Homo sapiens: one gene and its partners. The protein of the gene in region 5 interacts with the protein of the main gene of each other region in a pairwise test. Each region holds a gene or a part of one and is shown on either strand. Other genes may lie near its edges.

Evidence for each region.
Region 1: the proteins of KIFBP (region 5) and RGR interact in a two-hybrid assay, tested with the Homo sapiens proteins (one large-scale study listed by BioGRID and IntAct).
Region 2: the proteins of KIFBP (region 5) and ZNF638 interact in a two-hybrid assay, tested with the Homo sapiens proteins (one large-scale study listed by BioGRID and IntAct).
Region 3: the proteins of KIFBP (region 5) and PLEKHF1 interact in a two-hybrid assay, tested with the Homo sapiens proteins (one large-scale study listed by BioGRID and IntAct).
Region 4: the proteins of KIFBP (region 5) and ZNF670 interact in a two-hybrid assay, tested with the Homo sapiens proteins (one large-scale study listed by BioGRID and IntAct).
Region 6: the proteins of KIFBP (region 5) and DPEP1 interact in a two-hybrid assay, tested with the Homo sapiens proteins (one large-scale study listed by BioGRID and IntAct).

The regions. Positions count from the first base shown.
Region 1 is NC_000010.11:84,242,347-84,248,144, forward strand, and holds the start of RGR (RPE-retinal G protein-coupled receptor), read left to right. Parts: upstream 1-2,706; 5' UTR 2,707-2,744; coding exon 2,745-2,823; intron 2,824-5,244; coding exon 5,245-5,401; intron 5,402-5,798. UniProt on the Homo sapiens protein: Receptor for all-trans- and 11-cis-retinal. Binds preferentially to the former and may catalyze the isomerization of the chromophore by a retinochrome-like mechanism.
Region 2 is NC_000002.12:71,421,631-71,426,838, reverse strand, and holds part of ZNF638 (zinc finger protein 638), read right to left. Parts: intron 4,026-5,208; coding exon 2,801-4,025; intron 2,190-2,800; coding exon 2,124-2,189; intron 380-2,123; coding exon 1-379.
Region 3 is NC_000019.10:29,667,679-29,672,886, forward strand, and holds part of PLEKHF1 (pleckstrin homology domain-containing family F member 1), read left to right. Parts: intron 1-5,208. UniProt on the Homo sapiens protein: May induce apoptosis through the lysosomal-mitochondrial pathway. Translocates to the lysosome initiating the permeabilization of lysosomal membrane (LMP) and resulting in the release of CTSD and CTSL to the cytoplasm.
Region 4 is NC_000001.11:247,033,087-247,038,132, forward strand, and holds the end of ZNF670 (zinc finger protein 670), read right to left. Parts: coding exon 4,363-5,046; 3' UTR 1,551-4,362; downstream 1-1,550. UniProt on the Homo sapiens protein: May be involved in transcriptional regulation.
Region 5 is NC_000010.11:69,002,303-69,005,802, reverse strand, and holds part of KIFBP (KIF-binding protein), read right to left. Parts: intron 758-3,500; coding exon 678-757; intron 72-677; coding exon 1-71. UniProt on the Homo sapiens protein: Activator of KIF1B plus-end-directed microtubule motor activity. Required for organization of axonal microtubules, and axonal outgrowth and maintenance during peripheral and central nervous system development.
Region 6 is NC_000016.10:89,626,425-89,631,632, reverse strand, and holds part of DPEP1 (dipeptidase 1 isoform a precursor), read right to left. Parts: intron 2,679-5,208; exon of another isoform or gene 2,664-2,678; intron 1,364-2,663; exon of another isoform or gene 1,329-1,363; 5' UTR 1,223-1,328; coding exon 1,119-1,222; intron 1-1,118. UniProt on the Homo sapiens protein: Hydrolyzes a wide range of dipeptides including the conversion of leukotriene D4 to leukotriene E4. Hydrolyzes cystinyl-bis-glycine (cys-bis-gly) formed during glutathione degradation.

The DNA of each region.
Region 1 (5,798 bases), about 15 Mb from region 5:
TATTTCAGCTGAGCCCTTCTGGGCATTGCTACGAATGCCAAAGGTGGAGATGTCTCCACATAAGGGACAAGGGCACCCCTCTCCTCAAGGTGCCCTACTCCAAGGAGGGCCCCAGAGAGGTAGCTCAGAGAGGTCTTAGAGAAGGCACTTTCAGGTTTTTTTGGAGACAGGACCCCAACCTCTAATAAGGGCCTTTGGAAATTCTCCATCCATAAAGCTTTGTTTTGCTTTATAGGGACAGGGTTGCTCTGTCACTCAGAGTGGAGTGCAATGGTGTAATCATAGCTCACTGTAGCCCCGAACTCCTGAGCTCAAGCCATCCTCCTGCCTCAGCCTCGCAAGTAGCTGGAACTGCAGGCAACCACCACCATGTTTGGCTATTTTTAAAAAATTATTTTTTGCAGTCAGGGTCTTGCCATGTTGCCCAGGATGGTCTCAAACTCCTGGCCTCAAGCGATCCTCCTACCTCAGTCTCCCAAAGTGCTGGGATTACAGGCCTGAGCCACTGCACCCAGACTAATTTCAATTTTTACTTATTCTCTCCTAACCCTATCTCGCCCCACCATATCTACTCAAGATGCCAGTGGGGACTGACCAGGGATGATTCCCAGCAGTAGACACTCAGTCGACTCATTCATTCATTCTTCACATTTGACCCTGAGGCATTGTTCTCTGGTCCAGCATGCCCTACCTATGTTGTTTGGCTTTTCTAGAAGGTTCCCCAGTCCTTCATGCCTGTGGCTCCAGGCAGGCCTAGACCAGTGAGGTATGACCTGCAAAGATATCTGGGGCCCCAGTGCACACATAAAATGCCTAGCTCGGAGCCAGGTCTGTTTCAACAATACTGGCTTCTCATTCTTTCCTTCCTTCCAATGCAGCCAGTAGGATTTTCTCAGTGCTTCCCAGCTATACTTCCACCTCCCCAAACCCAGCCGTCAGCTTGCCTGTTCCCACATCTCTGCTTCTTCCTCCTTGTGTCTTTTGCCCAAATGAACTTTACCCTTTAATCTTGGCCTTGCCCTGCTTTATCTCCTCTCATGAAGGCTTTTGTGATCTCGAAGGCATGAAAAAAGGACTGACATATGTATTAACCAACACCATAAGGTAGAAATTGAGACAGAAGGCCAGGCAGGGTGGCTCATGACTGTTATCCCAGCATTTTGGGAGTCCAAGGCCAGCAGATCACCTGAGGTCGGGAGTTCAAGACCAGCCTGACCAACATGGAGAAACCCTGTCTCTAATAAAAATACAAAATTAGCCGAGCATGGTGGCACATGCCTGTAATCCCAGCTACTCGGGAGGCTGAGGCAGGAGAATAGCTTGAACTGGGGAGGTAGAGGTTGCGTGAGCCGAGATTGCGCCATTGCACTCCAGCCTGGGCGACAGAGCGAGACTCCATCTCAAAAACAAACAAAAAAACAAAAAAGAAATTGAGAAAGAACAGGGAACGCTCTGGAGGGCGCAGCCATAAGCTCAGCCCTGCAGAGGGATTAGGCTTGGATGTAAGTGAGGACTCATGAGAGGAAAGGCCTGGGAAGTGGGCATTCCTGGAACAGAGTGGGTTGCTCTACCAGGTGAGTCAGAAGATGCCATTGAAAAATGCCTGAGCCTGAGGAATAGGAGATCGGCTTTTGTTCCAGCTCCATCCATAAATTACTGCATGGCCTCAGGCAGATTCTTAACTGTTTTTAGCCACAGTTTCCTCATCTAAAATGGAAAGGATAATGGTATCTAACTCATGGAGTTGTTGTAGGACTCATCAGAAGATCCCCTAGCACAGGGCCTGACCTCACTCAATATTAGCTATGTTGCTGATAGTGCTCTGGAGCTTGGTTTCTTTATCTGAAAATGAACTAAGTTGTCCTAGATCAGTATTTCCTGGTGTAAATTTTATCATGAGCCAGAGCATAACAGTGCATAAAGAGCCAGTGTATCAAGAAGTCATTTGTAGCAGCCAAAGCTCTTAGTGGGGCCGGCAAGGCTGGGCGGGTTCGGGGTCGGAGACTGACAAGACGGCAGGCAGCCCCTCTGTTCTAAGACAGTGTCCTAGGACATTTTTTATGCTCAGGTGCTCTATGGGAGACAGGAAATGCAGCCCTGAGGTTTATATTCGTGATATCTAACCAGGACTTATATAAAGGCCACAGACAAAAGACATTGACATTGCAGAAAAGTAAACGGAAGAGTCCAGTGGTCCCACTCCAAGGCGCATAACTAGTTAGTGGCAGATTCAGAACCAGAACCCCAACCCCATTTTCTGGTCCCAGATGGGGTTCTTCCTCTGACAGCAGGCGACTTCCCAAGCCTCATCCTTTCCCCAGCGCTTTGGAGTATACTCATGTGAGCCTGAGGACACACACACAGGCACCAGGCTTGTTGGGAACAGCTGCGGCTCAAATCCCTCCTCCTGCTCCCCTCCCCTGGTTATGCAACTCTTTTCCAATTAGGCTCTCAGCCACACACCATTTGGATTCCCCGACCTTAATCCTGTGCAATGGGGCTGAAATGAATGAGACAGGGCTCCATTCTGGCTTCACAAAGGCTGCATTGTCCAACTCGTGAATGGGTTCCTTCTGCTTGGGCCAAGAGGACCATTTGCAGCGGGGAGGCATCCAGAAACAGCCCAAGGTCCAACATAATAACCTGCATGTGCCTCCACGCACATGGGATGGCCCTTTAAAAGGGAGGGCCTGGCTGTGGGAAGCCAGAGACAGCTGGGCCACTGGCAGTGAGGGAGAGTGAGGATGGCAGAGACCAGTGCCCTGCCCACTGGCTTCGGGGAGCTCGAGGTGCTGGCTGTGGGGATGGTGCTACTGGTGGAAGGTGAGCCAGGCAGAACCTGGGGTGCAGCGGGGGCCCAGTGGGTTCTGAGGACCCAGGCCACCAGTGTGGAGCTGGCAAGGAGAGGAGAGGTCCCCAAACCCAGCTGGGTGTCCGGTCCCATTGGCTGCCTTCCCCTCTGTGCCCGGACTCGGGGGGTGTTCTGACAATTGAACCTGTGAGGTGCAGCACACTGCCCGCTGGGAGCAGAGAGGAAGCCAGGCAAGGGTCAGGGAGGGAGGGACTTTGAAAGGGGACATCTGCCCAGGAGATGATCAAGAGCCAGGCTTTAGGACTTTTCATGTCCCTCCAGCCGGGAGAAAATTTAATCCACTCCTTGGAAATCCTGCTGAGAATCCCACATAAGATCAGTCCCCCAAAAGGCTCTGGGGACAGACAGCTCTGCCTCCTGCTCTTGTGTGGCTGGAACCAAGTCCCTTCAGCTCTCTGCCCTCAATGCCTTGACATTCCGAATGGGTGGTTGTAAAGATTAAATGGGATAATGGGTATAAAGTGCTAGCCTAAATAGACTCTAGGGTATTTAAGTTCATTCACTCCCATCCTCTCCAGCCCCACCACTATTTTCACTGTGTCTACTCCTATGAGCCCAAGCACTTCACCTCTGGAGGCAACCTGGGTCTGCGAGGTACCTACCTCAACCTAGAATCCCTAAGATGCTCGCTGAGGCCAGAGCTAGAGACAGTGTCAATCCTGAATCTGGGCCAGCCCAAGCTAAATTGATGGAGAACGCAGCTTTGGTTCAAAGCAGACCCAGAGAAATCATCAGCACGTTTTCTCACCTAATGAGAACTGACAATGGAGAGGAAGTGACAGTCATTAGATTGGTCCTGAAGGCTCTGGACACGACTGTCTGGTGGCCCCAGCCCGTGTCTCCCTTTCCTGAGAACCCTACAATCTAGCATCCTTCCAGGTCCTCAAACATGCCATAAAATTTTACCACTTTATTTTTTGGAAGGGGTTTAAATTTACATTTTTATTTCATGTTTAATGACTAGAAATGTCATTATATACACAATGCTTTGGTTTTTATTTTATTTAAAATATGTTTTAAATTTCAATAGCTTTGGGGATACAAGTGATTTTTGTTTACATAGATGAATTACATCGTGGCAAATGCTAGGACTTTAGTGCACTCATCACCCAAGTAGCGTACATTGTGCCTCATTTGTAGGTTTTTTTAATCCCACTCCCTCTCCCACCCTTCCCCTTCTGAGTCTCCAGAGTCCATTGTGTCCTCTGAATGCCTTTGCGTACTCACGGTTTAGCTCCCACTTGTAACTGAGAACAAACAGCATTTGGTTTTCCATTCCTGAGTTACTTCACTTACAATAATGGCCTCCAGCTCCATCCAAATTGCTGTAATAAGACATTATTTCATTCCTTTTTACAGCTATTATTCCATGATGTATATATACTACATTTTCTTTATCCATTCATTGGTCAGTGGGCACTTACATTGATTTCGTATCTTTGCAATTGTGAATTGTGCCTCGGTAAGCATAGATGTGCATGTGTGTTTTTGGCTGGATTAAATGGCAGATCTACTTTTAGTTATTTAAGGAATCTCTATACTGTTTTCCATAGAGGTTGTATTAATTTACATATTCCCACCAGCAGTGCATAAGCATTCCCTTTTTACCACATCCATGGCATTGATCTATTGTTTTTTGACTTTTTAATGATGGTCATTCTTATAGGAGTAAGGTGGTATCTCATTGTACCATAGCATGTCTTTGCACATGCTATTCCCTCCTGGAATGCTCTTCCATGCACTGTCCTGCAGGTAAGTGCTTCTCATAGTTTTGAAGGCAGGATTTTTTCCTGTTCCTCACTTTAGATAGGGGAAGCTGAGGTTCAGAGAGCTTAAGGAGCAGCAAGCGAGGCAACCAAGCCAAAATTCAAGGTCGGGTCTCTCTGTTGCCAGAGTACGCCCCCTTCATGTTCACTTCCATGCCTGGCGTCCTGGGCAGCTCCCAGCTCTAACATCGACTCTTCTCCTTGGAGCCTCTCTGACTTTGCTCTACAGTCCTTGGAGAAGGCATTTTGAAATCCAAAAGGCCTGAATTCAAGTTCCAGCTCCACCGCTTACTAGCTGTGTACTTAGGGCAAGTTAGCTAGTGTCTCTGAGCCTCAGTTTCCCAGCTATAAATGGAGAAGAGAGTATCCAAGTAAAGATTGAATGAGATGACTCATATAAAGTGCTTATCCTGGTGCCTGGTGTGTGCTAAGTGCCTGGCAGCTGTCAGTGATTATGACTGTTATAGCATGAAGCATGCTACCCTATATTGATTGTCTTCCTTGTCTGTCCAGGAGGTTGCTGATGTTCCATCCACCCCACACACACTGTTCTGACCCCAGCTGGGCCTCAGCAGCCCCAATGCCAGCCCCCACCCTTCCTTTCAGCTCTCTCCGGTCTCAGCCTCAATACCCTGACCATCTTCTCTTTCTGCAAGACCCCGGAGCTGCGGACTCCCTGCCACCTACTGGTGCTGAGCTTGGCTCTTGCGGACAGTGGGATCAGCCTGAATGCCCTCGTTGCAGCCACATCCAGCCTTCTCCGGTACCAGCCCCCTCCCCAGTCCACAGGCTCTGGGGTCCTGCCTGGGGCCTGACCCCTGGGCCCTGGGCAGCCAGGCCAAGGGCATTTTTACTACTTACAGAAAATTGGCCAAGGGCAGAGGGTGGGCAGGCTAAAATGGGCTGAATTCCAGATTGATTCTGAAGAACGACAGCTGATTTCTGGAAGACAGGGGTTGCTGAAACCTGATGAAAGAGATGGTAGGCTGTAGAGATCAATGGTGTGGGTTCTGTAACCAAGCAACCTAGGTTTGCATTCTGGCTTCAGCATTTCTAGTTCTGGGCTTCTTCCATAAATCGGATATTATTTCCTAACTCATATAGGTGGTTGGAAGTATTTACTTCTATTATGTGTAAATAACTTAAAATAATGCTTGATA
Region 2 (5,208 bases), on a different chromosome or scaffold from region 5:
GGGAAATGCAATCATCTTGGTCAATTAATTCATCTAATGTAAAAAGTGAATTTGAATTTTTTACCATTTCTTCCATATTTAGTTCTTCTTCATCAATTACTTCATCCACAGTGACTAGAGCTTGTGCTAGATGTGCAGCTGCATCTTCCTCTTCCCCAATCTCATCCAATGTCACAAAAGATAGTTCTCCCTCAACACCACGAGGAGTGGAAGTTTTCCCCTTTTTCTTCTTTAAGTTAAGTTCAGAGAAAGGAACATTTTTGAGAGTTTCTTTCCTTTTTCCCTTTAGTGGATTCTGCTTGGCCTGAGAAGGATTCACTTCTTCTATAACCTCATCCACAGTAACAAATTCATCCAAATTAAATGGAAATAATGGCTCCTGTTGGAAAGTTAAAAATCATAGTATTGTAAACAAATTTTGACCACTGGCTAGATTCCAAATAGTCACAATAAATGTGCATGCAGATCATTTGGGAGAATTTCAGTGCAAATTAGTTTTCCTAAAGGCTAAAATTAAGAGTTGTTTTTTTTAAAGCCCCACAAATGACTTAGCTATAATTCACAAAGTATAATCCAAAAGTAAAATTCTAACAGTATCAACCTAATTCCACTTTTACTTAAATTCAATAAGATTACATTTCCTAAATGAAGAGTTTCGAAGTATGACACATAAAAATACATTTAAAGTATTTGTCAGACAGTACAAAGGATTTACTGTTCCATATGTCAAACATCTAATAAGTGCTCTAGAAGACTTACTGGACTTCTAAAAGCACCTCAAATATAGTTAGAAAGTAAACAGCTAATTAGGCTGTTCCATTTATCAGTATATATTGATTACACATTAACTAATTATATATAGAATACATATTTTAAGAAATACAGGCCGGGCGTGGTGGCTCATGCCTGTAATCCCAGCACTTTGGGAGGCTGATCACCTGAGGTCAGGAGTTCGAGACCAGCCTGGCCAACATGGTGAAACCCCAGCTCTACTAAAAATACAAAAATTAGCTGGGTGTGGTGGCAGATGCCACCCAGCTACTCGGGAGGCTGAGGCAGGAGAAACACTTGAACCTGGGAGGCAGAGGTTGCAGTGAGCCGAGATCACGCCATTGCACTCCAGCCTGGGGGACAGGAGTGAGATTTCGTTGCAAAATAATAATAATAATAAAAGAAATATAATGGTTACATTTTGAGAAAGTTGTATGAAAAAATTATTACTAAGACTCAATGACTAACATAACTGTATTTGAAAACAACAGTATCTGTAATTTTTAAAAATGCCGTCAATAGTAAAGAAGATAAATTCCTACCAGGGCTCCTATACATTTAGTATGTTATTAATGATTAACTGCTATTATATATAATAACGACATTAGAATATGTACCCTGTAATTTCTAGGGAGAATATCTACAAGCGATTGTACTATCAAATTAACAAAGCAAACTGAAGTAGCCACAATCCTTACTTCTGCTTTAGTAGCCATAATCCTTATTTCTGCTTTAGTAGCCATAATCCTTATTTCTGCTTAAAACTAGTAACATTTCTCCTTGCCCCAACAACATAGGCCCAAATCTATCCCCTACCAGGTAAGAAAAGTAAAATGACTGAAAAAAATTCTATGAATGGTAAAAACCTAAAATAACAACCAAATATAAAATATGTTTGACAACAGAACTTGGTACCAGTAAAGTTAATCTTAGAGACCATCCACTTAAGGTTAAATTAGAGCCAAAAGGATAACCTGTTTTAACAAAATGAGGATGACTCAAGTCAAATGTCAGTCTCTTTCACATATATAAATTTTTTTTCTGTGTCTACAACCTATTCCTGTCAATATGAGATTGGAGGTATTGCCCTACTCTACTCTCTTTCTGTCCCCATATAACATTTTGCCCGCTCCCCCCGCCTCAAGAAAACACAAGGTGTTTAGACTAGCTCAAGGTCAAAAAGTAAATTAATGGTAGGATTAGAGATAAGTTAAAAACAAAACATCTCATTCCTATCCCTTGCTCTAAACTCTTAGTCACTAACATTGTTAAGGCAGGCACAAGTTATAAGATAGATGAACTGTGCTATGGAGATGAAAAAGAAGGGTTAGGGTCTGTGATCTATTTTTTACCTCTTTAGATTTGGAACTTCTACCAGTAGTGCTTTTAGGATTCTTAGTGTTTTGCTCAGCCAAAGTCTGAAATAGTAAATAAGAAATACAGAAAAACGGAATTTACAACCATATTATTAATGTTCTGGAAAAAAAAACAAAAAACAAAAAAAAACAGTAAACATTACCCAAATACAGTCAATTATGCAAATTATTTAACATGTATACAAAACTAAGTCAACAGTCACTAAACAGTATAGGCACAGTCTGTACAAGTTGTAGTTAAATTCAGTTTTACTGATCTTTTCGTCCCACAATGTCTAGTTAGGCAATCAGTGACCTGATAAAGGAAGCTTCAATTTAAGAGAGGAAACAGTTTCCCATTCAGAAGCAGAGTGGTAAATCACCTTAGGAGATTCACTGCAGACTTTTTTTTTTTTTTTTTAAACCACAGTTATTTCCAAATTGTATCCAAATAATGCTTTTCAAACATGTCAATAAATTATGAACTTGAGTTTAATACTCTGAATGTCTACTGGCTTAAACAATGGAATCATTTAAGAAAAGGAAATGGGAGCTTCCGGGGTAGAGTGAGGAGATGAAAGTATGAAACAAAATTACATCTCCTACTACATAGCTACAGCAGCGGAGCTAATCACTTCAAAGACACACTGTGCCATTCTTCCTACCCTCCTCACCTTATTGTTGCTGTCATCCCGTTTCATGATGGAAGGTCTAGCCTCTGTTTCCTGAGATTGTTTTGTTATATCTCTGTAATCCAGTTTAGAAAGCTTGCCTTGCAGGGCTGAGATCCTTCCACTGCCTCCTCTGGTAAGACTGCTCTGAGTAGGTTTGAATTTACTGCTGCTTTCTGCCAAGCCTGACCTGGCACTTGTGGGTTTAAGCAGACCAAATTCCTTGGCTGAAAGTTTCTTTTCAGCATTTATTTGATCTCTGGGCACAGATTTTGGAAAACTTTTCTGATTTTCAGTTTTTGAAACTGTAGCTTTTGCCTTAGGAGAAGAGACTATAACAGCCTTGATGCTTGGTTTACTGCTAGATACATCTGATACAGCCAGAATACTAGTTTTACTAGTTTCATCAGGCTTATTAGCCTGACCCACTCCTTTATTTGGGTATGCCTTGAATAAAGTGTTTTCTGCAGGCTTTTCTTTCATTGCTGCCATCTTTTCCACCTTTTCTGCATCCATCCTACCTTCATTCTTTTCAGCCTTCTCTGTTCCTATTTGAAGATCCATTCTGGTTTCCTTAGTATTAAATTCCTTCTCCTCCTTTTCATCCATGTTACCTTTTTTTTCAGAAATATTCTTTTTGTCCACTGTCTTCTCATCCCCAGTGGGAATTCCTGGTACTAACGTCACAATACAAGTTGATGGCAATATTTCCGAAACAGTTTCATTTTTTTCTACTTCAGCTACAGCTTCTACCATAGTCTGTGTAATTCCAGAAATGAAATCTTCTGCTTCAGATGGAGATTCTTCTAGAATTCCTTTGAGGTTCCTTTCTTCTGCAAACACACTGTCAGATGGTAACAATGCTGTTTTAGGGTTAATAATTTCTGCCCCTTTCTTCTCCAAGTCACTGTTAAACATCTGCTGATTTAAAGCACACTCCTCGGCATTTTCAGTGAATTGTTCAATACTGACTGAAGCGGATGCTACAAGAGGAATTTCTTCTTTGACCTCCTCTCCTTGAGTTTCAAGCTCCAAAGTTTCAACAGCAAAGTCAGAATCACATGTTGCTTTTTCAGCTTCTTCCTCACAAGGCTCTTCCTGCTGTACCAAAGTTTCTGTTTGAATGCTGGGAGTACTTTCTTCTTCAAGCTCATTAGGTTTAACAGAGGGACTATCAGTTGCTGTTTGCACCTCACTTTCATCAATTGGACTGTTTTTCAAGCCAGGGCTAAAAGTATTTAAAAACAAACAAAAAGAACACAAACAAAAACACAAACAAAAATCAAACTATGATGAGAATTCAACCATTATAAAGAATCCTGCTGATGCCAATTGTTAAGACTTCCTGATGCATTCGTAATAAGCACTGGGAAATCCAACCAATCAGCATAAAATGGGTAAGATGTATTGCTGGAAATACGTAAATAATATAAATTATGACTGTTGATATGTTCCTTTTGCGCTCATGTGATTACAGCCAATATTTTCCCTCCTCTGTCAAGTTAACCCCTGACATTGAAAGGTCAAATGTGAATCTGAGACACTTCAAATATTATCAGGTCCTATTCCCAACAGTGGTAACTGAAATAATAAAATATGTGTACAGTTCTACAATAAAACTAATGATCCATGCATTATGATTTAAAATTTTATAAGTGAACCTTACCTAAAAAGAACATAAACAGAAACTGGTGGGGGGAAAAGACCATACTCTAAATCATATCACCTTTTTATTTTTTTTTTGGATGTAAAATATTTTTTTAATTACCCAAGAACCATATTTATTAATGATAATACTTAGAACATTATTTGGAAAGTATTCTTTATATACTCTATTGAGGATTTAAAGCTAGTGACAAAACCTGATATAATCACCTTATGTGAACATACAGTCTTATAAATATTTGCCTTTGGCTATAAGAAGAAATGCATTAAAAAATAAACCTTCCCAATTCAAGAGAATAATGTATAATTCTAATATTTAACTTAAATGTGTAAGTAATATTCAGAAGAAATGGAGGAAATACATGGCTAAGTATATGTAATTCATCTTATTTCATCATGGTCTTCCCAAATCTAAAGTATATGAAAAGTGAGTAGTCCTATAATTCCAGTACTTTCACCGAGGTAGACACAGAATAAGTTATTTTTATATCAATATTCCACAAATCAGAGGTTTTCTTGAAGAACAAGGAAAACCTTAGCTTCCAAAAACAATGCCCAACATGCTATCAATGCAAATTAAAATTTACCAAATATATTCATATAATGAGAAGCAGCAGATTGGAGAAAGACACCAGAGAGTGATCCTATCATATCAATACCTGATTATTAAAAAGTACTGACTTTCTTCTCCTATTTTTTAAGGAAGGAGAGGATGAGCCATCCCTTTTGACCTGCTTCTTAGAGGG
Region 3 (5,208 bases), on a different chromosome or scaffold from region 5:
TGGGGCCCCACGCATCTCTCATTTATCCAAAATGCTGTGTCCGGAGTAGGAGAGAGGACAGGACGACTCCCGTCAGGACAGTACCTTGTGTGGCCTGTTCAGCGTGCCCTGCAGTGTGTGCATTATACATTTTACAATGTGGCATGGTGTAGATCAGGGGTTGGCTAACCTTTTCTCTCAAGAGCTGGTAGCAAATAGTTTAGGTTTTGCCAGCCATACAGCCTCTGTCCCACATGGCTGTGTTTGAATAAAACTGGATTTAGAAAAGCTGGCAGTGGCCCAGATTTGGTGTAGCTCTCCAGCCCCTGCTGTTGATCACGTATCACACCTGGGCTGCCACATACAGAACCTGGCTTCATGGCTTCTGCAGCCACACGGGGGCTCTCAGGATGTGGCTCCCAAGCCGCAGTGCTCACATGAGCACCTCCAGCCCCTGTGCAGGCAGCAGGATTGCTGAGCCTGAGAGCCCCCACCCCTCTGAACCCTCAAAGAAAGATGCAGGTCTGTTCGTTGCCTGGTCTCCCAGGCTTACTGAGCCTGCGCTGGGGTCACCCCTCTACCAGCAGCCCTGGGGCCACACTGGGGCCAATACAGGCACTCAGGGCCCAGAGGCTGCCAGGAAGCTCTGTCACCAACATCTTCCCGAGGCAGGCCGGCCCCAAATGAGTAAGGACAGGGCTCAGCTTTTTTCTCCCCTGTGCTAAGCAAGGGAGGTTCACTTCCCTAGTGAGAACAATTAAAAAAAAAAAAAGGATTCCCAGCTGGGCTCAGTGGCTCATACCTGCTATCCCAGCACTTTGGGAGGCTGAGGAGGGAGGATTGCTTGAGGCCAGGAGTTCAAGACCTATCTAAGCAACAGAGTGAACCCTCGCCTCTAAAACAAATTTAAAAATTAGCCAGGCATGTTGGTGCATGCCTGTGGTCCCAGCTACTCAGGAGGCTGAGGCGGGAGGCTTTCTTGAGCCCTGGAGTTCGAGGCTGCAGTTAGCCCTGATTGTGCCACTGTACTTCAGCCTGGGCAACAAAGCAAGACAATGTCTCAGAAAAAAAAAAAAAAGAAAGAAAGAAAAAAGCATTCCCCATCTAACTCAGGGCTGCTGTATTTGCCAAGAAAAACCTACAGGCAAGGTCAAACCAGGATGTGAAGTTGTGGTCATGTAGAGAAGGTGAGCATGCCGGGGCAGCTCCCAGGAGGATGTTGTCTGCCCCGCCCCTCGCCCAACCTGGGACCCTCTGCAGGTTCACAAAGGAGGGCACATGTGAGCCCCTGGCTTCCCCAGTCAGTGTGTGGGGTCAGCTCTCAGCCCAGCCCCTTTCATCGCCACCAGATGCCCCTCCTCGCCCTTCCTGGTCCACATTTTACCATCAGCAGCTGGACACTAGCCCTAAGAGCCTAGAGGGGGTCTGTGAGTCATGGGTGGGGGCAGAGCAGCAAAGGGGTCCCATGTGGAGTGTTCTGCACCCCCTCCAAGGGCTGCAGAGACAGCGTCATGGACTCTGCCCTCTGCTGGACGGGTCCAGGGTGGATTGGGCACCCCTGCCTGCAGCTCTCTTCTGCCTGGTGCTGCTCCTTCCCTTCCTCCATGCCATCCACTTGGCTGGCCCAGTCTCCAGAGCTCAACAAGCCCCCAGGGTTGCGGGAGGGCTACCTGCTCTCTGGGCACAAAGCCCACCTGCCTCAGCTACTGAATGTGGAGGCTTTGGTCTGCAGTCTCAGGTTTGGGTTTTCATCCCGTTTCACCAGTGGCCTGACTTCTCAGCACACAGCTGGGCTGGGGGCACACGTGGCCTTGCTTCTTCGGGGCTCCTGACATCCCCTGCAGGTGCCCAGGCCTGGATGCCATGTGGTCACCCTATCAGGCCCAGCCAGGCGTCCCATCATGAGACATGCTCAGCGGCCCCCAGCCCATGGAGCCCAGGACCCAATCCAGACACTGGCCTGTAATTCTTTTCCTTTTGAAGACCTTAAATTAGAAGAAGCAACACGTGTTCCCATTTCTTGAAATTGGCAGATATTCGGATTTCATCGTGTTTGCTGCTGCCTTTTTTTAAAAAAACTTTTTTAAAAATGAAACCTTATAGACGAAAGTGGAATCCAATCTGAGCCCTCCATTCCTGGTCACATCTATGTCCTCTCCCCAGGCTACTTACTCCTGACTTTCTCCTTCCTATCTTTTATTTTTACCATTCTAACCACTTTCAAGTGTACAGTTCAGTAGTGTTAAGTATATTCCCATTGTTGTGCAACAGATCTCCAAAACTTTTTTTTTCTGAGACGGAACTCACTGTGATGCCCAGGCTGGAGTGCAGTGGTGTGATCTTGGCTCACTGCAATCTCTACTTCCTAGGTTCAAGTGATTCTCCTGCCTCAGCCTCCTCAGTAGCAGGGATTGTAGGTACATACCACCATCCCTGGCTAATTTTTGTATTTTTAGTAGAGACAGGGTTTCACCATATTGGCCAGGCTGGTCTCGAACTCCTGACCTCAAGTGATCTGCCCGCCTTGGCCTCCCAAAATGCTGGGATTACAGGCATGAGCCACCACACCTGGCCTCTAAAACTTTTTAATCGTTTAAAACTGAAACTCCATACCCAGACAACCTCCGCATTCCCCTTCTGGCAGCCCCTGGCAACCACCATTCTATTTTCTGTCTCTATGAATTTGATCAGTATGTATATCTCATATAAGTTATTACAGTATTTGTCCTTTTGTGATGGGCCTGCTTTACTTAGCATGATGTCCTCAGGGCTCATTCGTGTTGTAGTGTGCGTCAGAATTACCTTCCTTTTCGAGGCTGAATAGTATTCCATGGTATGTATGTTCCACATTTTGTTCATCCATTCTCCCATTGACAGACGTTTGAGTTGCTTCCACCTCTTGGCTATTGTGAATGATGCTGATATGAACATGGGAAAGCAGATATTTATTTTAGTCCCTGCTTTCAGTCTGGATATATATCCAGAAGTGGCATTGCTGGATCATATGGTAGTTCTGTTTTTAACCTTTTTTTTTTTTTGAGACGGAGTCTCACTCTGTCGCCCAGGCTGGAGCACAGTGGCGCGATCTCGGCTCACTGCAAGCTCCGCCTGCTGGGTTCACGCCATTCTCCTGCCTCAGCCTCCCGAGTAGCTGGGACTACAGGCGCTCGCCACCACACCAGGCTAATTTTTTGTATTTTAAGAGACAGAGTTTCACCGTGTTGGCCAGGATGGTCTAGATCTCCTGACCTCATGATCCCCCCTCCTCGGCCTCCCAAAGTGCTGGGATTACAGGCGTGAGTATTTTTAACTTTTTAAGGAACTTCCATGCTGTTTTCCTTAGGGGCTGCACCAGTTCCTATTCTCATCAGCAGTGCACAGTTTCCAGTTTCTCCACACCCTCACCAACACTTGTTATTTATTTTTTGTTTTGTTTTTTTCCCCTCCTTTTTTTTTTTTTGAGATGGAATCTCACTCTGTCACACAGGCTGGAGTGCAATGGCGCCATCTTGGCTCACTGCAACCTCTGCTTCCTGGGTTCAAGCGATTCTCCTGCCTCCGCCTCCCGAGTAGCTGGAATTACAGGTGTGAGGCACTGTGTCCGGCCTTCCTCCTACCTATTTTTATTCATAGATATAGTTCTTGAACACTTTCAGAATGTTATGTAATTCCTGCATAAGTGGTGTCACTTTACATACAACATTCTACAGGCTGTGTTTTTCCACTCCACGTTTGTTGTTTGCCGTCAGACCACATTGATCTGTATCTCTCATTGCGTGAGTAGCCCCGGGTTTTTATCCTTTTCCCTGCTGGTAGGCATTTTGGTTGTCTCTGCTGGGCAGTCATTGCTCTTTGTGGAATGCAGTTCTGGTTTTGTCAGATTGTCCCTCAGCCAGGTACTCGGTGATCAGTCATGGTGGGACAGGTCAGTTCTGTCACTGGTAATCCCCTAGGTTTGCAGTATACAGCCAAGATCAGCAAGCTAAAAATAGCAGTTCTTACGTAAGGTAGTGTGGGCAGCCCTTCTCAGGACACTTGTGATCTGCAGGGGCAAGTGGAACGGGACTCGAGGGCCCAGCATCTTCTGTTCTGCAATGCATCCACCCTCACACTGGGGCCCCACTCTGGCTTTCTACTGGTGGCCAGGCTCAGAACTGCAGCTCAGTGACCCAGAAACACTATGGGTGTGATCAGCTCAGCCCCAGGCGTGCCGTGTGTACCGGAATGCATGTGTGCACGTGGTGGTGGTGGGGCCAGCTCTCACCTCTTCCTCTGTAGAGGTAAGAGCTGAGTCATGCATGGTGGGCCTTGGGACCTGCTTGGAACCGTGCCAAGCTACTTATGAAGCATCTAGTATGTGCTTGGCATGGCTCCAAGAATTGTGGACACAATGAACAAGAAGAAGCTCCTGTTCTCATGGAGCTAAGAACTGAGCAGGGAAGCAGAAAACACACAAGCAATGAATAGACAAGCAAACAGCAGGTCCTGTTAAATCCCACAAAGAAAAACGATTGAATCCCAGAGAAGTGGCCAGCAGACCTTTTCTACAAAGGGCCAGGTGGTGAATATTTTAGGCTTTGTCACCATGTAGTCCCTGTCACCAACACTCAACTCTCCCATTGCAGTGTGGAAGCCACCAGAGACAATAATAAATGAACGAATGTGGCTGTGTCCCAATAAATCTTTAACAAAAGCAGGCTGAGGGCCGGATTTGACTCTCAGACCTTGGATTACCAATGCTTGTCCTGGGTGTGGGAAGAGGCTGCCTGAGCTGGGGTTGTCAGGGAGAACCCTTTCAAAAAGGAACTGAGAACCCGTTGCAGGAAGGAGCTGACCCTGGGACAGCCTGTCTCAGGTAGGACACAATGGCACCTTGCCACCGATATGGTGGCGGAGTTATGTGCTGAGAAATGGGCAGGCTAGATTTGAGAGGTAAAGATGATGAGATTTACTCATGGCTTGAATATTGGAGGTACAGGAAGGGGGAGATTCAAGGATGTGTCCTAGGTCTGGGGTTTGAACTCCTGGATGAATGGTGGTGTCACTGAAGGAGAGGAAGAGGTGCAGGTCTGCGGAGGTTTGTTGTTGGATGTGTTGAGTTTGAGGAGCTTATTAGACAAGCAGGTGAACATCTATGCTGACAGCCCTCCTAGAGCTTGGAGAGGCCAAGACTGGAGGCTTGGAATGGGGAATCTATGGCATTTATGGGGTCTTCAAGGTCGTGAGTCT
Region 4 (5,046 bases), on a different chromosome or scaffold from region 5:
CTTTCTCTTGGGTAGGAACTCCTTTGAGGCCAGTGGGTGAATGTCTGTGTACCCTATTCATATTTATCAATGTATTCTTCCAGAAAGGCTAAAACCAACATTGCCATTGTTGCATGTCTCCTACAAGGTAATAGCTGTGTTGGTGGGGTTCAAGAATTCTAGGTTTGGCTGGGCACAGTGGCTCACACCTGTAAATCCAGCACTTTGGGAGGCCAAGGTGGACAATCACGAGGTCAGGAAATTGAGACCAGCCTGGCTAACAAAGTGAAACTCCATCTCTACAAAAAATGCAAAAACAAAATTAGCCGGGCATGGTGGCGGGCGCCTGTAGTCCCAGCTACTTGGGAGGCTGAGGCAAGAATGGCATGAACCCGGGAGGTGGAGTTTGCAGTGAGCCGAGATCGTGCCACTGCACTCCAGCCTGGGCGACAGAGCAAGACTCCGTCTCAAAAAGAAAAAAAAAAGAATTCTAGGTTTATGTTTGAATTAACTCCTTTGCTGTGTCATATGGGTACCATGGTTGTTTCTCCCCAAAGCAGGCTCACTGTGTACTGTTATCAGCTTGTCTGAGTATGATGAGAGAGAACACATTCATGCACATATTACATAAGTTGATTTATTACTTATAAAGGGATCGAAGATGAGAAGTCTAAAATTCAGTGTGATGTGGTCCCCCTGAGGTTCAGAGAAGTTGCCTGGAAGGATGGAATTTTGATTGCATGTGCCCCACTTGCAACACAGTTAAGAGACTCCAGAAAATAGCCCAGCCCAGGTTTTATAGCCCAGGATCACCTGACTCACTGACCAAAAGTGTTGAGAGATTGTATTTCTTGTGAAGACTGTTAAGTCTGGGCTGTTCTACCATTCTCTTCTGATATCAGGATATTCCATTCCCAGCACATTCTACACTTATTCTTGAAAACTGCAAGTAAGAAAGAGGGTAGAACCGGACCAGTCCAATAAAACTTGGAGGACAGTTCTGAATCCTTAACAGTGAGGGATCAGGATATTTGTTGTGATAGAAACATAGGCAGTAGCAGTACAGAAATTTCAGTGTCCCAGTTGGCCATCTGCTATTAGGTTTCTGGACCACAGCATGACTCATGACTGCTTTTGTCTTCTTTCTATAAAAACTGCTTCAGACTATCTTTTAATTCTTCTCATGCAAAGTAGCAGCATTTGATTTATCGGTAGTGTGGGCAATCTGTGTGGTTAAAGAAAACAGTTCAGGAGTCCGTCAACCCACATTGAAGAACACCTAATCCTCCAGTGAGTGCCACTCAATCTTGCTGGTGTTAGCAACATACAGTAAGGTCATTTTGACTAAGGTCATCTAGGTTGCAAGGTTAGGCCTTTGGCATGCTGATCAGTAGTGCTAAAAGAAGCCCATATACTAGATAGAGGTTCTGCAATGAAAGAGGCTAATGCCAAATGCTTCCTCCCCTTTTCTTGACTCATCAGTGCCTGGACCAAGAGGCACCATGGATGTGCACCTCATCAGAAGAATGCACATAAAAGCAACAGCACAAGAAAACACTCAAGGCCACTAGTCTTGCACAAGTCATCTTGTTACACAATTAGGTGACATGCTTAATTCTCCCCAGCATGGGGACATTCTTCCTTTCTGCAACTTCACACACACAAAATCCCTGGAGCTGTCCCAAGTGTGTACAGTAATAACGTTCACATGGCTACTCCAAGCATCCAGTGATGGCAACCAAACGAGATGCAGTTACCACAGAGCAGTAGTCTGACTTTTGATAATCAGGAATAAAGAACCCAGTGGTGAAGGTGCTGGGTCACTGCCTCAATGTGGGGTACCTTGGAAACTGCCTGCCAAACACAGGTCAAGGTGGAACATACATCCTCCTGGGGAACGGCTGGTCAACCAGTCATGTCTAGGAGTTGAGAGTTCTACTGTGGGAAGAGGTGGCAACAGCTGATAACACAAAGCACTGTGTAGACCAAAGTGAAAGTCCACCATCAATTGCTGTTTCTAATTCAGGTGACTTCTGTTATATTATGGAACCAGTTAGACAAAAGCAGGTAGTTAAAGCTGAAAAGATATCATCAGTCATGGTTGGTTCATTCTGTTGGTAATGCCAATTGTTTTCACAGTCTCATGGGTGACAGGAAAAATTAGGACCCTAAGACTACTGGGAAAAACACGTGACACCCATGAGTGTACAGATAAGATTGAGAGAAGTTATTAGTTACATACATTCATAGACAAAAAAGGGAGGGTTCTGTAAACGAGGCTGGTCCACACAAGACTTGCACTACGGAGCAGATAGAACAAACAGGGTGTAAGGGGAATGCTTTGTAGTATCAAGAACGTGAGATGCTTCTTGGTTCTCATAAGGATGCAATTGGTTTGTTTAAATGCATCTGTGGAATGGTAGGCAACTGAAATATGTTAGGCTACAGACTGATAAGATCAAAATAGTATGTTATAATGCCATAATCCTGTAATATACAATTTATTGTAGTGCTAATTACACATAATATAAACTAGTTATGCATAATTCATAGTAACTTACAAAACTGTACTATACCACATATTATATAGCTACTTATACACATATAAGTATACATGTAGACATGCTATATATACAGATGATGCTATACTATATGGTATACTAGGGCACACCAATTTGACTATAAATGCAAAAGGCCCCAACAATACACTGGAAAATTGAACGTTATCAATATGGGTTGAGTGTTTCTTATCTGAAATACTTGGGAACGGAAGTGCTTTGGATTTCAGACTTTTAACATTTTGGAATATTTGCAGAAAACTTACTGGATGAGCATCCCTAATCCAAATATCAAAAATCCTCTAATGAGCATTTCTGTTGAGCATAAGACTGGTGCTCAAACAGTTTTTGACTTCGGAGCATTTCAGATTTGGTATTGGAATCTGGGGTTTACAGATGTTCAACCTGTAGATAAAATACTTATATTCCATGATGAAGACAAATTTCACCCAGATAACCATAATATATTTATATCTGAAAGCCAGTTAACGTAATAGACTATCAGTAGAATGCCAAAAACCACAAATCATCTCAATAGATGCAGAAAAAAACATGTCATAAGAGTTCAACACTCCTTTACCATGAAACAATAAATAAAAAACACAAGAAAACTTCCTGAGCCTGTTTGAGAATATTTATGAAAAATCCACAATATACTTGATGGTGAGACTGAATGCTTTCACACGCAGATTAGACAAGCATACTGTCCAATCACAGTTCTCTCTTCTTAATTCAAAGTAAAAAGTGGGCCAGGTGTGGTAGCTCATGTCAGTAACCCCAACATGTAGACAGGCTGAGGCAGGAGGATAGCTTGAGGCCAGGAATTCAATACCAGCCTAGACAATACAGCGAGATCCCATCTCTATAAAAAATTTTTAAAATTATATAATTAGCTGAGCATGGTGGCATGTGTCTGTAGCTCCAGCTACATAGGAGGCTAAGGTGGGAGAATCACTTGAGCCCAGGAATTTGAGGCTGCAGTGAGCTAAGACTATTATTACCACTACACTTCAGCCTAGCTGACAAAGTGAGACCCTCTCTAAAAACATAACATTTTTTAAAAAAGTGAACTATGCAAGTAACAGCCAAAACTCATGACAGAATAAAGGAAAGAAAATGAAAATAACAATGTACATGAGACTATATAAACTTCACATACATGCAAATTAATAACAATTCTTTATTAGCAAAGAAAACAGAAGAAAATCTTTACAACAAAAAAGTAGTTTTCCCATAAAAAGGTAGAATACACACACACACACACACACACACACACACACATGAACTCATTTTTCATTGGTCCATTAATTAGAGAACAATTAAACAACTACATGAAAATTAAAATTGCCTACTATTAGAAATACATTTCAACTTAGTCTAGGGATCCAACAAATTTTTAAATGAATAGACAAAAATTATGTTAACTGATGAGAAACAAAACACAGCCTATTAAGCTCATGTACTATGGCTTATAAAGTATCTGTGAAATTCTCAGCTCCATGATTCCCTGCAAAAAACTGAAAATCTAAAGTATAGACACCTTCTTTAACAATGAACCACTGATAAAAATATATTTGAAAGCGGCTGGGAAAATAAAGTGTTCTAACACATTTTTCGTATTTTATGACGTTCTTTCCCAGGACGGGTCCTTCTAAGTTTTAGAAGGGAACTAGGAAAATTGCATACATTCTAATCTTCCTTACATGTGTTGGGTTTCTCTCTAATTTGAGTTTTTAATTTTTTCACGTGTTCTAATGAAACTAGAATAACTGAAAGCTTTAACACACTTCTTACATTGACAGAGGTGTTTTGTTGTTGTTGTTTTTTACCACATATAAGCTCTTTCATGCTTTCGAAGGGAACTGGAACAACTGAAGGCTTTACCACATTTCTTACATTCATAGGGTTTTTCTCCAGTATGAGTCCTTTCATGGCTTCGAAGGGCACTGGAAGAAGTAAACGACTTACCACATTCCTTACATCCATAAGGTTTCACTCCAGTGTGAGTTCTTTCATGCTCACATAGGTTACTAGAATATTTGAAGGCTTTACCACATTGTTTACATTCATAGGGCTTTTCTCCACTGTGAGTCCTTTCATGGACTCTGAGGACTCTGGAACATCTAAAGGCTTTGCCACATTTTATACATTCATAGGGTTTTTCTCCAGTATGCGTTCTTTCATGTATTCCCAAGTAAGTGGAACGACTGAAGGCTTTGCCACATTCCTTACATTCATAGGGTTTCTCTCCAGTATGAGATCTTTCATGTTGGCGAAGAGAACTGGAAAAAGTGAATGATTTACCACATTTCTTACATGCATAGGGTTTCTCTCCAGTATGAGTTCTTTCATGTTCACGAAGATAACTTGAATAATTGAAGGCTTTATCACAATGTTTACATTTATATGTTTTCTCTCCAGTGTAAGTGCTCTGAGGCATTTGAAATACACTAGGAAAATCAAAAGGCTTCTCATACACTGGACCCTTATAAGGCCCATTACTAGTGTG
Region 5 (3,500 bases):
TCTCAAACATTTCCAGATGCTGGTAGACTTGAGCTAGGTAATATAGGTTATGAGTATAAACCTTTTCAAATCTGTAAAGAAAAAATAAACCAATATTTGTGTAATGGTTTACTTGTTTTTTTTTTTTCCTGAGACAGAGTCTCGCTCTGTTGCCCAGGCTGGAGTACAGTGGCACGATCTTGGCTCACTGCCTCCGCCTCCTGGGTTCAAGCAATTCTCCTGCCTCAGCCTCCCGAGTAGCTGGGATTACAGGCGCCTGCCACCATGCCTGGCTAATTTTTGTATTTTTGGTAGAGACGGGGTTTCACCATAATAGTCAGGCCAGTCTTGAACTCCTGACCTTGTGATCCACCCGCCTCAGCCTCCCAAAGTGCTGGGATTACAGGTGTAAGCCACCGTGTCCGGACCATGGTTTACGTTTTATAAGTAAATTTCATATATATTTATTTTGATTATCCCACCAACCCTTTGAGTTGGATTTGTTTATTGTATCTATTTGACAGATAAGGAAACTGAGTCTCAGGTTTGAACAAGGTCAAATAACAAGTAAGTGGTAAATGGAGGTTTTACTCCTGTCAGAATCCACATTCTATAACCTTTATAAGTGACTTTTTGAACAATCACTAATCTATGATATGTGGAAATATTTGCAAGGGCTGATTTCTATACCTACTCACCTTTTTGATCTCTCTTGTTCAGTAAGTTTCTCTTCTTCAGGAAGAAAACGCTCAGTAGGATCAAGAGGAGGACTCCCAACCTACAATTAAGAAAAACAAAAGCTCTTTAAAGTTTTAAACTGTAAACACCAAGTGCCCTCTTCTGGAGGACCTGGAGAAATCAACTTCTACAAGCCAAATACATTTCATTTTTTCCTAGTTCATTTTTATGTTACTCAAGAAGTAATTTTCTGTTTTTTAAATTTTTATTTATTTATTGAGACAGGGTCTCTGTCACCCAGGCTGGAGTGGAGTGGCACAATCTCGGCTTACTGTAACCTCCGTCTCCCGATCCTCCCACCTCAAGCAATCCTCCTACCTCAGCCTCCTGAGTAGCTGGAACCACAGGTGTGCACCACCAGTCCTGGCTAATTTTTATATTTTTTGTAGAGACAGGGTTTCGCTATGTTGCCCAGACTGGTCTTAAAACTCCTGGGCTCAAGCAATCCACCTGCCTTGGCCTCCCAAAGTGCTAGGATTATAGGCGTGAGCCACTGCACCCGCCTCAACAAGTAATTTTCTTAACCATAAAATCTGAGTCAAACAAATAAAAGATACCCTTTTATTTGTTTTAACCAAATGTCAAAAGTTCACATTTGACAAAATTTTACTGTTGTTGCAGTTAAACTGCAAATATGCAAAAAATCCACCAATCTGCTTTTAGACATATATAATTCTTGAAGTATTTTTTCTTTTTTTAATTCTTATTTATTTATTTAGAGATGGGGGTCTTGCTCTGTTGCCCAGGCTGGTCTTGAACTCCTAGCCTCCAGTGATCCTCCTGCCTCAGCCTCCCAAAGTGCTGAAACTACAGGCATGAGCTAAGGTGCCCAGCCTCTTTAAGTTTTTTTTTTTTTTTTTTTTTTTGGAGATGGAGTCTCGCTCTTTTGCCAGGCTGGAGTGCAGTGGTGCGATCTCGGCTCACTGCAACCTCCGCCTCCCGGGTTCAAGCGATTCACCTGCCTTAACCTCCTGGGTAGCTAGGATTACAGACACGTGCCACCACCCCCAGCTAATTTTTGTATTTTTAGTAGAGACGGGGTTTCTCCATGTTGGCCAGGATGGTCTCAATCTCTTGATCTCATGATCCGCCTGCCTCGGCCCCCGCAAAGTGCTGGGATTACAGGTGTAAGCCACCGTGCCCGACCCCTCTTTAAGTATTTCAAATGGCAATTTTGTCTGGTAAAAGGGCTCTTTTAAAAACATGCATAAGCAAAACAAATAGGAAAAATGTATATATTTCTACAGTAGTAGTATTCTAAACTGACCACTAATAAAAATCAAATGAGAGATTTTAATATTTATTCTAATATTTTTTTCTCAAGGAAATAACAAAAGTGTATTACCCCCTTTCAATACAGGGACATTAAAACCAGATTCCATTATTTATTGCCTTGGGCAAGTCACTTGATCTCTTGTGCTTCTGTTTAGTCATCTATAAAATAAGGGTAATAACAGTATCTATCTCATGAGGATTAAGTAATATTTATAAATCACTTACAACCCCCTCTTACGTCTTCCAAAACAGAACTACCTAACCTCTGCCTCATTCTACTTCTATGAGGATAGTCCCATCTAGAAACACACTCTTGCTTTTAACTGAATTCATTAAACTCAAAAAGGAACAACGTCTTTCATAAAAATATGATTTTACATTCTGGATGTAAACACTAAAAGCATCACAACGTGGGCTCCCAGGATTCACATAAAGTAAAAACAACTAAGACAGGAAGCAAGGCCCAAGGCAAACACAATAGATAAGTAATTCTTCAGAGAACTCTTCAACAATTCCGAGGGCTGCTTACCATGCTTACCCCTGTCTAGATGAGGGGAATTAATCAATATATTATTTTATGTACATACTTCACTGTTATGGCTTTCACACATCATACGTAATATTAATACAGTCAAATCAGTCTCTTAACTGAAACAGAGGTACAACTAAACACAAGGAATTTCACTATATGTGTTATGTTTCCATACAAATACTATTTTTAATGAAATACTATTGATGCTTAGTAACTTTTTTTTTTTTTTTTTTTGTAAAGACGGGTTCTTGCTTTGTTGCTCATGTTGGTCTTGAACTCCTGGCATCAAGCAATCTTCCCACCTCGGCCTCCCAAAGTGCTGGGATTATAAGTGTAAGTCACCGTGTTCAGCTTTTACATTTTATTTTACTTATTTTTGAGACAGGGTCTTATTTGGTTACCTAGGCTGGCGTGCAGTGGCAGGATCCTCGCTCACTGCTGCTTTGACCTCCTGGACTGCCCTCCCGGACTCAAGCCATCCTCCCACCTCAGCCCCCGAAGTAGCTGGGACCACAAGCACACGCCACCACACCCAGCTAATTTTTTTTTAGTTTTTGTAGAGACAGCGTATCACTATGTGGCCCAGGCTGATCTTTGAACCTCTAAGTCAGGCAATCCACCCACCTCAGCCTCCCAAAGTGCTGGGATTAAAGGCGTGAGCCACTGTGCCTGGCCTCAGACCTTACATTTTAAATTAACAATTTCACATATAAGACTGTGAGCCTAAAAGCAAGAAAGGGTAGACTAATATCTCTATTTGGTTTTGTGGCACTCTGCTCTTGTTAGTACTTCAGGAAGAAAGTTAAAATGCCAAGGTACGAGGCTGGGCATGGTGGCTTATGCCTGTAATCCCAGCACTTTGGGAGGCTGAGGTGGGCGGATCACTTGAGGTCAGGAGTTTGAGACCAGCCTGGCAACATGGTGAAACCCGGTCTCTATAAAAATACAAAAATTAGCTGGGAATGGTGGCGGGCAC
Region 6 (5,208 bases), on a different chromosome or scaffold from region 5:
CCGCCCGCCTCGGCCTCCCAAAGTGCTGGGATTACAGGCGTGAACTGCCCAGCCTGGACTGTTCCCTGAAGTTCTTATGCGACAAGACATCGGGTTTCCCTGCTTTTTTCACAGTTTTTCCCCAACAAAGCCCAGAGGCATTTTCCAGGTGGAGACACCATGCCAGACACAGGGCGGACTCTCAGTGACCCTCCCACCCCAACGCGGAGCCAGTGTGGACCCTGATCTGAGTCTGGTGCCTGGAAGCAGGAGGCCTCCATGGTGACCCAGTGTCGGGGCACTGGGCCAGGAAGGGGCGGGGAAGAGGGTCGGATTCCCGGGCAGTGGGGATCTCCGCCCTGAGGAGGTCAGGACAGAAGCAGGTGACCCAGGTGCCCCAGCGAGGTCGGGGGTGGGGGCCGGGTGGGCACACAGCGCAGCACAGGCAAGGGCCCAAGTGGCATGGGCCTCCCCCCGGGAGAAGGCAGGCCGGGGGGAGTGGGAAGAGAGCCAAAAAGATGCCGGCTGAGAGGGCCTGTAGGGTGCCACCCGCACCTGCTGCTTTTGGGAGAAGCTGAGGCACAGGGTGAGATTGGGGCGCAGGGCCTCCACGTCCGCAGGCTCAGACCTCACTCTGAGCTTCGGGACCAGGGAGTGTGGCCTTGCCTCCTTCCTGCCCAGTCCCTGCAGACCTTCATCCGCTGAAGTCTTTGGGGGCCCTGAGAGACCCCACAAAGCAGCAGGGGCCAGGAAAGGGCAAGGGCCCGGCACCGTCGCAGAAGCTGAAACTGAGCCCCAACCCAAGGGCACACGAGTCTCACCCCCAGAGAAACTGAGCCCCAAGCCAAGCACACACGAGTCTCACCCCCAGCTCCCCCAGCCCCAACTCCCCAGGCCAAACTCCCCCAGCCCCGGCACCCCCAGCCCCGGCACCCCCAGCCCCGGCTCCCCCAGCCCCGGCACCCCCAGCCCCGGCACCCCCAACCCCGGCTCCCCCAGCCCCGGCACCCCCAGCCCCGGCACCCCCAGCCCTGGCTCCCCCAGCCCCGCTCCCCCAGCCCCGGCTCCCCCAGCCCCGCTCTCCCAGCCCCAGTTCCCAGTCCTGGTTCCCTAAGCACCTGGCTCAGGTGAGCACTCACCCATCAATGACAGGGGAGTCCCTCATGATCCTCTCTGCCTCGTCCCGAAAGAAGTCTGCAGTGCAGACGGCCACAAGGGGCCACAGCCACCATCCGCTCCACATGGTGGGGTCCCCGGGGACCTGTGTGCACTGCTGCCCTGGTGCCTCTGTGCTGGCCTGGCTGGCCCGTGCAGAAGGATGAGCTTCAGGCTGTGAGGAGCCACTCTGCCTGCCAGGAGAGGCACCAGAGGTGTGGGTGGAAGTGATGACAGGTGGCTGCTCTCCTGTTTATAGCTTCCCATGTTCAATAAGTAACCAGCACATTCCCCACCAGGGTGGGTAGGATGGAAGGCCGGACACTCAATGACTGGGCGTTGCTGTCTGGGCTAGGCGGAGGCATAGTAAGAAGCTGGGATCCCAGACCCAGGGGTGGAGCTAGAGCCCAGATGAAAGGACAGCAGGCTGAGAGCAGGCCCAGATGAGTGGTGAGTGGCTGTTGGCTCTAGCTGTGCTACTGTTATTACTACCACCTCCCTCAGGACCCGGGGGCCTAGATCTGCAAGCAAGACAACAGTCATTCAAATAGTGCATTCTCATAAAGCACCCCTTTCCACGTAAAAATCATCTTACGTGACTTGCCATGGGGGATAAACATTAGGGCGTTCCAGGAAGCTGCTGCACAGCCAGGTGTGCCCCTGGCGCCTGCCCTGTTGCTGAGGGGTCCGCACCCCCGGCCTGCAGCCCTCCAGCGTCACAGGGACCCACACTCCAGCTACAGAGCTTCAGGCCAAGCAGCTAGACACGTCCTTAGAACCGGGGCCTCTCTAGGACTCAGCAGAGCACATTCAAGTCGCCCGAGGGCTCCTGGGCACACAGTTCCCAGGTGGTGCCCTGACGGAAGAATCTTAATCCCAGGGCTGGGTGGTGTCTGGGGTTCTGGGGGACAGTGGGCTGAGCACTGGGGCTAAACCAGGCCTGCTGGGAGGAGCAGGAGGGAAAACTGGTCAGAGGCTTCGGGGGGGGGTGGGGGGAGCCCGGCAGGGAAGGAGGATCGCCCCAGCTGGAGGACAGTGGCTCCCTCTCGGCTCACTGCAACCTGCACCTCCTGGGCCCAAGCAACCCTCCTGCCTGAGCCTCCTGAGTAGCTGGGACCACAGGCGTGCACCACCACGTCTGGCTAATTTTTGTATTTTTTGTAGAGATGGGGTCTTCCCCATGTTTCCCAGGCTGGTCTCGAACTCCTGGCCTCAAGCAAACCTGCCTGCTTTGGCCTCTCAAACTGCGGGGATTACAGGCATGAGCCACCATGCCCAGGTCATGATAAATCGTATTTTCATTCAATATTTTAAAAAAATCAGAATTCATGTAAAAAAAATCCATAATGAACAAAGTATAAAACTTTAAAATAGCTGGGCACAGTCATTCACGCCTATAATCCCAGCACTTTGGGAGGCCGAAGCGGATGGATCACTTGAGGTCAGGAGTTCAAGACAAGCCTGGCCAATATGGTGAAACCCTCTCTGTATTAAAAAGACAAAAATTAGCTGGGCATGGTGGTGCGCACCTGTAGTCCCAGCTACTCAGGAGGCTGAGGCAGGAGAATCACTTGAACCCGGGAGGCGGAGGTTGCTGTGAGCCAAGATCATGCCACTGCACTTCAGCCTGGGCAACAGATCAAGACTCCATCTCAGAAAAACAAACAAACAAAACACAAACCGCCCCCCCTCCCCCACAAACCTTTAAAATAAAGACAGGCCCAATATTCTGATTTTTCCTTTTGCCTTCAGCTCCAATACTATCTACACAGCCCTGGACTCTGAGAACATCCATGTTCTGCTTGTCGCTTCAGAGGCAGAAACTGAGTGACAGGAGAGCATTTCCAAGAGCACCACACTCCCTCAGGTGCCACTAAGGAGAGAACTTGAGGCCACTGTATTTGTCCATTTTCACACTGCTATAAAGAAATACCCTTTGGGGGCTGGGCAAGGTGGCTCACACCTGTAATCCCAGCACTGTGGGAGGCTGAGGCGGGCGGATCACCTGAGGTCAGGAGTTCGAGATCAGCCTGGGCAACATGGTGAAACCCCGTCTCTACTAAAAATACAAAAATTAGCCAGGCATGGTGGTGCATGCCTGTAATCCCAGCTACTCGGGAGGCTGAGGCAGGAGAATCGCTTGAATCCGGGAGGTGGAGGATGCCATGAGCTGTGATCGCGCCATTGCACTCCAGCCTGGGCGACAAGAGTAAATCTCTATCTCACAAAAAAAAAAAAAAAAGAAAGAAAAGAAAGAAAGAAAGAAATACCTTTTGTGGCCGGGTGTGGTGGCTCACGCCTGTAATCCCAGCACTGTGGGAGGCCGAGGCGGGTGGATCACCAGGTCAGGAGATCGAGACCATCCTGGCTAACATGGTGAAACCCCGTCTCTACCAAAAATAAAAAAAATTAGCCGGGCATGGTGGCGGGTGCCTGGAGTCCCAGCTACTTGGGAGGCTGAGGCAGGAGAATGGCATGAACCCGGGAGGCAGAGCTTGCAGTGAGCCGAGATTGCACCACTGCACTCCCGCCTGGGCGAAAGAGCGAGACTCCGTCTCAAAAACAAACAAAAATACCCTTTGGGAGGCCAAGGCAGGAGGATCACGAGGTTAGGAGTTTGAGACCAGCCTGACCAACATGGTGAAACCCCTTCTCTACTAAAAATACAAAAATTTACTGGGCATGGTGGCCCTTGCCCGTAATCCCAGCTACTTGGAGGCTTTTGGAGGAGAATCACTTGAACCAGGGAGGCGGAGGTTGCAGTGAGCCGAGATTGCAACACTGTACTCCAGCCTGGGTGGCAGAGCAAGACTCCGTTTCAAAAAAAAAAAAAAAAAAAAAAAAAAAGAAGAAATATCCAAGACTGGGTTCCCCTGCCCTTCCTTTCCCTCTTCTCCCCTCCCCTCCTTCCTCTCTCTCTCTCTGAGACAGAGTCTCAGTAGGTCACCCAGGCTGGAGTGCGGTGGCACAATCTCGGCTCACGGCAACCTCTGCCTCAACTGATTCTCATGCCTCGGCCTCCGGAGTAGCTGGGATTACAGGCGCACACCACACCCAGCTAATTTTTTTTGTATTTTTAGTAGAGACAGGGTTTCATCATGTTGGTCAGGCTGGTCTTGAACTCCTGACCTAAAATAATGTGCCCTCCTCGGCCTCCCACAGTGCTGGGATTACAGGTGTGAGCCACCATGCCTGATCCCACATCTGACTTTTTTTTTTTTTTTTTGAGACGGAGTCTCACTCTATTGCCCAGGCTGGAGTGCAGTGGCGCAACCTCAGCTCACTGCAAGCTCTGCCTCCCGGGTTCATGCCATTCTCCTGCCTCAGTCTCCAGAGAAGCTGGGACTACAGGCGCCCGCCACCACGCCCGGCTAATTTTTTTCTTTTTTTTCTTTTTTTTTAGTAGAGACAAGTTTTCACCGTTTTAGCCAGGATGGTCTCGATCTCCTGACCTCGTGATCCGCCCGCCTCGGCCTCCCAAAGTGTTGGGATTACAGGTGTGAGCCACCATACCTGGCCCCACGTCTGACTAATTTTTTATTTTTACTACAGACAGTTTCACCATGTTGGCCAGGGTGGTCTCAAACTCCTGACCCCAAGTGATCCACCCGCCTCGGCCTCCCAAGCTGTTGGGATTACAGGCATGAGCCACCGCGCCTGGCCAAGACTGGGTAATTTTTAAAGGAAAAAAGCCTTCATTGACTCACAGTTCCACATGGCTGGGGAGGCCTCAGGAAAATTACAATCATGGCCGAAGGCAAAGGGAGGCAAGGCATGTCTTAAATGGCAGCGGGGGAGAGAGTTTGAGGGGGGGACTGCCAAACACTTTTAAAAACCAGATCTTAGGCTGGGTGCGGTGGCGCACGCCACCGCGTGATCCAAGCACTTTGGGAGGCCGAGGCGGGTGGATCACCTGAGGTCCGGAGTTCGAGACCAGCCTGACCAACATGGAGAAACCCCATCTCTACTAATAATACAAAATTAGCCAGGCGCGGTGGCTCATACCTGTAATCCCAGCTACTCGGGAGGCTGAGGCAGGAGAATTGCTTGAACCCGGGAGGTGGAGGTTGCGGG